Homo sapiens: one gene and its partner. The protein of the gene in region 1 purifies or fractionates together with the protein of each later gene. This does not show direct contact. Each region holds a gene or a part of one and is shown in the gene's direction. Other genes may lie near its edges.

Region 1 (4,371 bases):
GAATAATTCTAAAAGCTATCAACCATGATGAAAATAAAAATGAGTGAACTTAATTGTGCACTCTTTATAATAGTAGTTAGTATGGTTACTTTTGGAATCATTTAAAAGTTAAAAAGAATTTTATTATGATAGTTCAAGCATACAGAAAAGTATCAGAGAGTCACATAACAAATGTATGTACCCTCTGCCATTCAGATGTGCCCAGTTTATATATATGTATATGTACATATGAGGCATATATGTGTATGTAGATACTGTATATGTATATAAAGAAATAACTCATAACAAATAGAGTTGAAGTCCCCTTAATAACCTTCCTCTATTGCCTTTCCTTTTCTATCCCCACTGAGGCAGCTGGCTTATTTAACAACTTTTATTTATATTTATCTTCACTCCGTATTACATGTAGGTGCTGACGTACAGAAAGGCAAATATTGGGATACTCCATTACATGCTGCTGCTCAACAATCCAGCACAGAAATTGTAAACTTACTGCTAGAATTTGGAGCAGATATCAATGCCAAAAATACAGAGCTTCTGCGACCTATAGATGTAGCTACGTCTAGCAGTATGGTGGAAAGGATATTGCTTCAACATGAAGGTAAGAAAAATACATGTGGAAACTTACAAAAACAAAATATATTTGCCTAAAATAGATGAAAGTGAGAGAGTTTTTGTTGGCATGGAAAGTAACAATGGCATAAAATGTGGAATATTATTTGTGAAAGTAGATGATTTTTAACTTAGGTTTTATCTATAAAGAAGATATCAGCCGAGTGTGGTGGCTCACACCTGTAATCCCAGCACTTTGGGAGGCCAAGGCGGGTGGATCACAAGGTCAAGAGATCAAGGCCATCCTGGCCAACATGGTGAAACCCTGTCTCTACTAAAAACACAAAAATTAGCTGGGCATGGTGGTGCGTGCCTGTAATCTCAGCTACTCAGGAGGCTGCGGAAGGAGAATCACTTGAACCCGGGAGGCGGAGGTTGCAGTGAGCCAGGATTACGCCACTGCACTCCAACCTGGCAACAGAGTGAGACTCCATCTAAAAAAAAGAAAAAAAATGATAATTTTAATTTTCTCTTTCATCTTACCTAAACTCTCATATATTTTTGGTTAAATATATTCAATTAGTTTCAGTAATGCATTATATGCACTTCTGGTATAATATCTGCTGATTTATATTTGGAGCATGCCCCATTTTATAAGGACATGAACCTTCTATAACATATTATAGAAATAAAATTAGTAAATATTTTTACATTTGAGACTTTTGTTCTAAAATAGGATTTCTTAATCCTAGTCCAGGGACTATAATATTTCTTTTAGGGTAAATATTAAACTTAATTTTAAAATTTCCCCTTTTAGTGCATAATACTTCTCAGGACTTTTGATTTATATCTCCTTCAAAAAGCAGACTTTGTTTCTGAGGCTTTAAATTCAACAATTATTTCCTAAGCCTGAGGATTATAATATTTTAAGGAATGTATATGGAATATATCTCAATTATAATAAGATCTTATAAATAAAAGCAATATAACTGCTTACATAAATTTCCCTAGTATAGTGGTCATGCTATCCTAGGTTTACTACAAAGCATTGTAGTTTTTATGGTTTTATGTTATGTACCTTACAACATAAAAAATTCATTTCTATTTTAATTAACAAATAGATTCATGTCTTCTTGTAGCTACCCCAAGCTCTCTTTACCAACTTTGCCGACTCTGTATCCGAAGCTACATAGGAAAACCAAGATTGCACCTTATCCCACAACTCCAGCTGCCAACGTTACTGAAGAATTTCTTACAGTATCGATAAAACAGTAAAGTAATTCTAAATACCTTGAAAATCAAAATTTCTATTTCTTTTGCTTAAGGAATAGTTCATATAAAAATATGCTAAAGATAGGATAAAAGTGAGTGTGAGATCACCCAGGGAAGCAGTAAAATATCAATTTTCATTTTAAGTGTATTAGTACTATTGTTTTATCATTTATGCTGTCTTTGGATTATAGCATATTTATAATATCTATTTTTTGTTATTTCAATATACCCTCCTGTTTATTCAGGAAAAAATAATAAAGTCACTATCTTATGTTTTCTTTTGGATTGGAAAGAAATAAAGCTCCTAGTAAAGTTATTCATATTATATTTAAAAAGGTCTATGTTCTTCAACTAATGGGTTAACTTTTTAATTTTGGCTATTGTAATTGGCTAACTTGTTACTGATATTGACATAAAATATGAATATGGCTTAGCAAAGAGCAACTAATATGTTTTCTGAAACCAGGATGATGCTCATTCAGGAAATCCACTATGTTGAATGTCCACTGGTCATTAGAATGAACACTTCATAAAGATAAATTGCCCCCCTCTCCCCCACTTACCCCTGGCAAAGGACTCACAAGTCACTTCTCTTCTCCATAGTACATGGACTTGTTACAGAAAAGTGATAGGATGAAAGGTCAATACTGCCCTCTCACCCTGAGATATTTAGAACATTACACACCTTCTAAGGCTATGTTAAGACTGCCTCCTTCTCAGGAGTAGCCCCTGATGATCTCTTATCAAGGCGGTTATATGCATATTACTCCAGCCTTCTTCCATTTCAGAAATTGTCAATAGCTAGTGATACTTGGACTTAAGAAAATGAACTATATATCTAATTAACAAACAGGCCCTGGATCATATTCCGGGGATCATCACATCAGTCCAAGGATATAAAAAAATGGAAGATTAAAAACTCAAATTGTGGAGTTTTTAAAGAGTGGGTGCCACTTAACACATTGGAGACCTTAAAAAATGTATATAGAGAACTTAATCGCACTGTTTCTAATTCTTTTTACACAAAACAAGGGCTTAGAGTATACTGTATTTGCAAGTAATAGCAAGAGAGTATTGTATAAAAGAAGATATTACTAAGCTAGTCCTCTGCAAGGGTAAATACTACGTTTATTCTCTTCAGCTTTAACTATACTTGAGTGCAATAAAAAACTTAATAAAATTTTATGCCTGTTTTGTAATTCAGGGCCTATTATGATTTTAGAAATAAGATAATCAACGTACAACTCTTTGTAAAACAAAAGCAACTTTGGGTGAGTTTTATAGATTTATTAAATTTTGATAAAGTAAATATTTTGACCACTATTTTCAACAACCCAGGGCTTATTTTCTTCTGACTTCTTGGCTAACTTCCAGACTATGGGAAAATAAATTATGATTGTATGTGACCCCCAGATCACTAAGCTTGCATTTTGGCAGAAAGAAAAAAAATCAGTTGTGATTTAAAACGTTTGTTGAGATTTTCAAACATAGAAATAAAGCTGTAGCATATTCACTAAACAATGTTTTATATGAGGATAGGGACCTTTAAATATGTGTTTTATAGAATATCTCACACATTTGTAATGGATAACGTGCATTAAAATGGAGTTCTTATTATAGAATAACCTGGTTAAACAGATATTAAAGCTGCTTTTGGGTAAAACAGGTTTCCACCAGTATTTTCCCTGAGCTAGAGGAGAAGTCTTAGATTTTAAGAGTAATACAACCCATCTATCTTATTAGTCTTGTGCCAATAAGAGAAGTAAATATCAAACATTAAAATGGTCACTTTACAATTTCAGTATGTCTGTACCTTGTATCTTAGCTTGAGTATGATTGTCTTATCAAAGTAGTGTTCTAACTTTAATGTATTGTATGTTTGTTATTATATTAAAGTGTGATTATTATTCATTGGAATAAAACACTTTGTGTTTGTCTCATTATTTTATTTTATAATGAAAAGTCATGGAGTGACTCAGTTGCACTAATTTTTTTCACCACCAGTTTCCAAATCACTGAATCATGAGCATTAAGATAGAGTAGCACAGAATAAAAAATAGATACCTCAAAGACCTTCTAATCCAAGACATATTTTATATATATGTGACATATAATACATATAATATATGTGATATTTAATACATATAATATACATATATACATATATGTATACACACACATTAAAGTTCAAGGACAAAATTTCACAAAGTAAAAGAAACAAAATAGTTACTATGTGACATAAGATTTAAGAAATTTAGTAAAACAATAACTGTAGATAGACACTGTTGAAACAATTTTTTTGGATTAAAAAAGTAATTAAATTCTATTGTTTTAATAACCACAGCATATATTTGGTGTTTCTGAGAAAGTAAATAGATATGTAGTAGAAAAGAAAGGCCTCTTCAGAGTAGAAGGTTTTCTTTGTTCCATCATAGCACTGAGCTCAACTGACTAGTGATCCAGCTACAAAATAACTTAAAAATTATCCTTTCCCTTGGATTATTCCCACTTTTTTACTTCAGTTTCTCTGTTATTCTTATTATCATT
Region 2 (3,821 bases), on another chromosome or scaffold:
TTTTTGATTTTTTGTAGAGATGGGGTCTCGCCATGTCGCCCAGGCTGATCTCGAACTTCTAGGCTGAAGTGATCCTCCTACCTCGGCTTCCCAAAGTGTTGGGATTACAGGCACGAGCCACCGTGCCCTCCCCCTTTATCCTTGATTAATTGAATAACACTTTATGTTTTTAAAGCACTTTGTACTTTTTAAAGCATTTTCTACCCATTTTTTCCTTTTGATTTTTTTTTTAACAATGCGTTTCAAAGGCAAATAGGGCTTGTTATTCTTGTGTCATATGAATTGACCAGGGTTCTAGGAGTTCAAATGACTTGCACAGGGTCTCCCCCGACGGAGGGAGACCCTCAAAGACCTGGCTGTTATTTCTGTGCTCTTTGTGCCGTGTTCCACTGCTTCCCTCCCTCCCAAAGCCTGTTGAGGAATGTGGGCCAGTGACAGACTTGCCACCACAGGCTGGGTCTCCTGGACCAGTTCCTGGTGCCTTCTTTACCCCTGCAGGCTTTTTAGATGCAAAGCCACAGGTGCTTCCTTCTTCCAGGCACATCTCACAGCCTGTGGGTCCCATTGCAGGAAGCTGGGCATCCATTTCTACTCCAGCAAGGACCCCAGGGAAGAACTGAGTGAGGGGCCGCTGTGTCCGTAGCATATTTGGTTCCTGTGTTCCAAGCCTGCACAGGGCTCTTAGCAGTATTATCTCATGTGTCTCCACACAGGTGCTGCCCTTAGAGGCTTTGGTGACTGATGCTGGAGAGGTGACTGAGGCAGGCAAGGCCTACGTGCCTCCACGGGTCCTGCAGGAGGCTCTGTGTGTCATCTCCGGTGTGCCAGGGCTCAAGGGTGATGTCACCGACACTGAACAACTGGCCCAGGAAATGCTGATCATCTCCCACCACCCATCCTTAGGTCCGTGGCTGCGGTGGGTGTGGGAGAGCCCAGAGCTTTAGGGGATGGGGTAAGAGCAGGCCAGGCAGAAGGCCTCAAAGAGCTCCCTTCCCCTTCAGTTGCCGTGCAGTCTGGACTTTGGCCAGCACTTCTTGCCAGGATGAAGATCGATCCTGAAGCCTTTATCACCAGGCACCTGGATCAGATCATTCCCAGGATGACCACACAGAGTCCCCTAAACCAGGTGACGGGCACATGAGCTGGTCTGGCCTCAGGTCCGGGAGGGGGCCCTCTCATCACAGTGTACAGGAAGAGAGGATTCAAAGAAGCAGGTGAAGATGGATGAAATGTAGGCTTGGACCCTTGGTTGCACGTGACAGAAATGTAAACTGGTTTAAGCACAAAAGGGAACTTACTGCCTCATTTACCTGCAAAGTCCAAGGATATGACTGGCTACAGGGGTTCACATGTTGCCCTTGGAACATTGTAGGTGATGTCTCTCTTACTCTGTCCCATCCATCTTTGTCTGTTGTCTCTGTTTTCCACGATGTGGGCTCCATTCTCAGGCTTTCCCTTTCTGGTAGCACAAGAGCTGCTAGAGTTCCAGGCTTTGTCTTGCCATCAGCTCCTAGGGGAATAGCTTGCATATTTCAATAATGTCTACTGGCTTGGGGTCGCTTTGACCCTGATTAATCTGACTTGGGTGCCATGCTCATCTCTGCACCCATCCTTCTGTTCTGGGTCACATGCCTACCTCTGGAAAAAGTGAGGGCAGCTCCACCTGAACCACGGAGATTGAGAATTGGGAAGGAGTGTATCACCTCACGTCAGGTGCTGTGTCAGACAGAGGAGCACTGCTTGGTGAGGAAAGCAGACGCAGACTCCAGCCGGCCACTGTGATGGGCATTGCCCAGGAGTAACAAGGCAGTGGCATAAAGAAGGGGAGCCAGTGCTAGGGGCATTCAGGTGTGGTGGACCTCTTGCCAGTGCCAGCCTTGGCACACACTGACCATGTCTGCGTTTGTCTGGCAGTCCTCCATGAATGCCATGGGCTCCCTTTCCGTCCTGTCGCCGGACCGGGTCCTCCCACAGCTCATCAGCACCATCACTGCCTCCGTGCAGAACCCTGCACTGCGCCTGGTGACGCGGGAGGAGTTTGCCATTATGCAGACCCCTGCTGGGGAGCTGTATGACAAATCCATCATTCAGAGGTGAGACCTCACTTATGGGCTCAGTTTCCTTTGCTCCCCAAGGCATAGTTTTCTTGTGTGTAGAATGGAGCCAGTGCCTCCTGTGAGTTGAATGCAACAGCCTATCCATTCATTGGCTAAGCGCCTGTTGTGTCCCCGGCACGGTGCTTAGGTCCTGGGTATTTAAGTGTGTCCAGTATCCGGCACTGTGCTGGTGCACAGTGCTTAACAGCTAGTTGGAATTGCATGGCTGGCGGGAGGCTGACAGGACTTGCGGTGCTTTTCAAGCTGGCTGATGACCCACTCTGGTGTTTCAGTGCCCAGCAGGACAGCATAAAAAAGGCCAACATGAAGCGAGAGAACAAAGCTTATTCCTTCAAAGAGCAGATCATCGAGCTGGAGCTGAAGGAGGTGAGTACACGGAGGCACTTACGGAAGGTGGCTGCTGAGCTTGGTGGCCTCAAGCTGGTGGCTTTTCCCACTGCACATATGCTGTTCACTTGGAACATCCTGAGGCCCATGGCACACTCCTCTGATGCCCCTGACCAGTGTCTGGTGCACTGGCACACTTTCCCTTCACCCTTGCTTCATAGCTTCTTCCACCCACAACTCAAAACCGGTTTCTTTCTCTGCTGGGTGCTGGCGACAGTGCACGTGTCTCCTCTGCTAAGTGGTGTTGCTGGATTCCATGTCTGTCCCTCCACTTCCTTGAAGACTGGGACCCATCTAGACTCCTGATAGCAGGCACAGCGCCTGGTACAGTGGGACTTCTGGGGAATCATGACTTGATTGCTGAATTCAGCTTTGGGCAGAGCAGGTTCTGACAGGAGCAGAGCACACAGGACTCTTTCCTTCTCAGCGTTTGCTCTTCTCTCTGTCTTTACAAGGCAGGATTCTTCTTGTCTTTCTCATCTCAGTCCACATGTGTGCTTCTCAGAGAGGTGGCCAGCTTGTCCACCCTATCCAAAGTAGACCCCACCCTTCCTCCCTTTTACTAAACATCATATTTGTTTCTTTACTAACATTTATCATAACCCAAAAGCATCTTGTTTATGTGCTTGTTGACTTGTTTATTATCTATCTTCGCCTGCTAGATTGTGAGCTCCGTGAGGGCAGGGACTTTATCTTGTTCCTACGATATTCCTGCCATCTGGAACAGTGCCTGGCACAATCCAGGTGCTCACTAAATGTTTGCTGAATGAGTGAGTGAGTTCTGTGGCTTGTTGTCTCAGGCCACTATAGCAGGCCTTTTCTAAGCTTCAGCTTATCCTGTGGGAGAGCTTATGTAGGAAGGGGTTGGAGAGGAGGAGGCTAAAGTTTTGATTCTGAATCCATTTGGCTGTCAGAATACCCTTTTGAGTACATTGAGGAACCTTTATTTCTCTAACATAAAAAGCCCTCTTAGCCTTTGTCAGTAGAGAATCCAGTAAAACAACTACTTCTCTATTGCTGTCTCCATTCTATAGAAACCAGGTGGCTGTGGACTTTGTGGGAGGTTGGGGGTGCACATGGTGGGTTCAGGGGCCCAACTCACACTTAGAGCTGGTATGGTGCTGTTTGTGTGGAAGCAAGCTCACCTTCCTCTGTTGGGGAGGGAGGTCTGTTCCCTGGAGATGGGATTGGTTGGTTTGCCCATCCTCTTTAGGAGATAAAGAAGAAGAAAGGCATCAAAGAGGAGGTGCAGCTGACCAGCAAGCAGAAGGAGATGCTGCAGGCCCAGCTAGACAGGGAGGCGCAGGTCCGGAGGCG

The links.
Region 2: the proteins of ASB5 (region 1) and GCN1 purify together in Homo sapiens (affinity purification with mass spectrometry, with the first as the bait; one large-scale study listed by BioGRID). This does not show direct contact.

Annotation. Positions count from the first base shown.
Region 1 is NC_000004.12:176,213,048-176,217,418, reverse strand, and holds the end of ASB5 (ankyrin repeat and SOCS box protein 5), read left to right. Parts: intron 1-409; coding exon 410-601; intron 602-1,691; coding exon 1,692-1,819; 3' UTR 1,820-3,746; downstream 3,747-4,371. UniProt on the Homo sapiens protein: May be a substrate-recognition component of a SCF-like ECS (Elongin-Cullin-SOCS-box protein) E3 ubiquitin-protein ligase complex which mediates the ubiquitination and subsequent proteasomal degradation of target proteins.
Region 2 is NC_000012.12:120,160,152-120,163,972, reverse strand, and holds part of GCN1 (stalled ribosome sensor GCN1), read left to right. Parts: intron 1-713; coding exon 714-903; intron 904-1,001; coding exon 1,002-1,126; intron 1,127-1,914; coding exon 1,915-2,093; intron 2,094-2,389; coding exon 2,390-2,483; intron 2,484-3,717; coding exon 3,718-3,821. UniProt on the Homo sapiens protein: Ribosome collision sensor that plays a key role in the RNF14-RNF25 translation quality control pathway, a pathway that takes place when a ribosome has stalled during translation, and which promotes ubiquitination and degradation of translation factors on stalled ribosomes.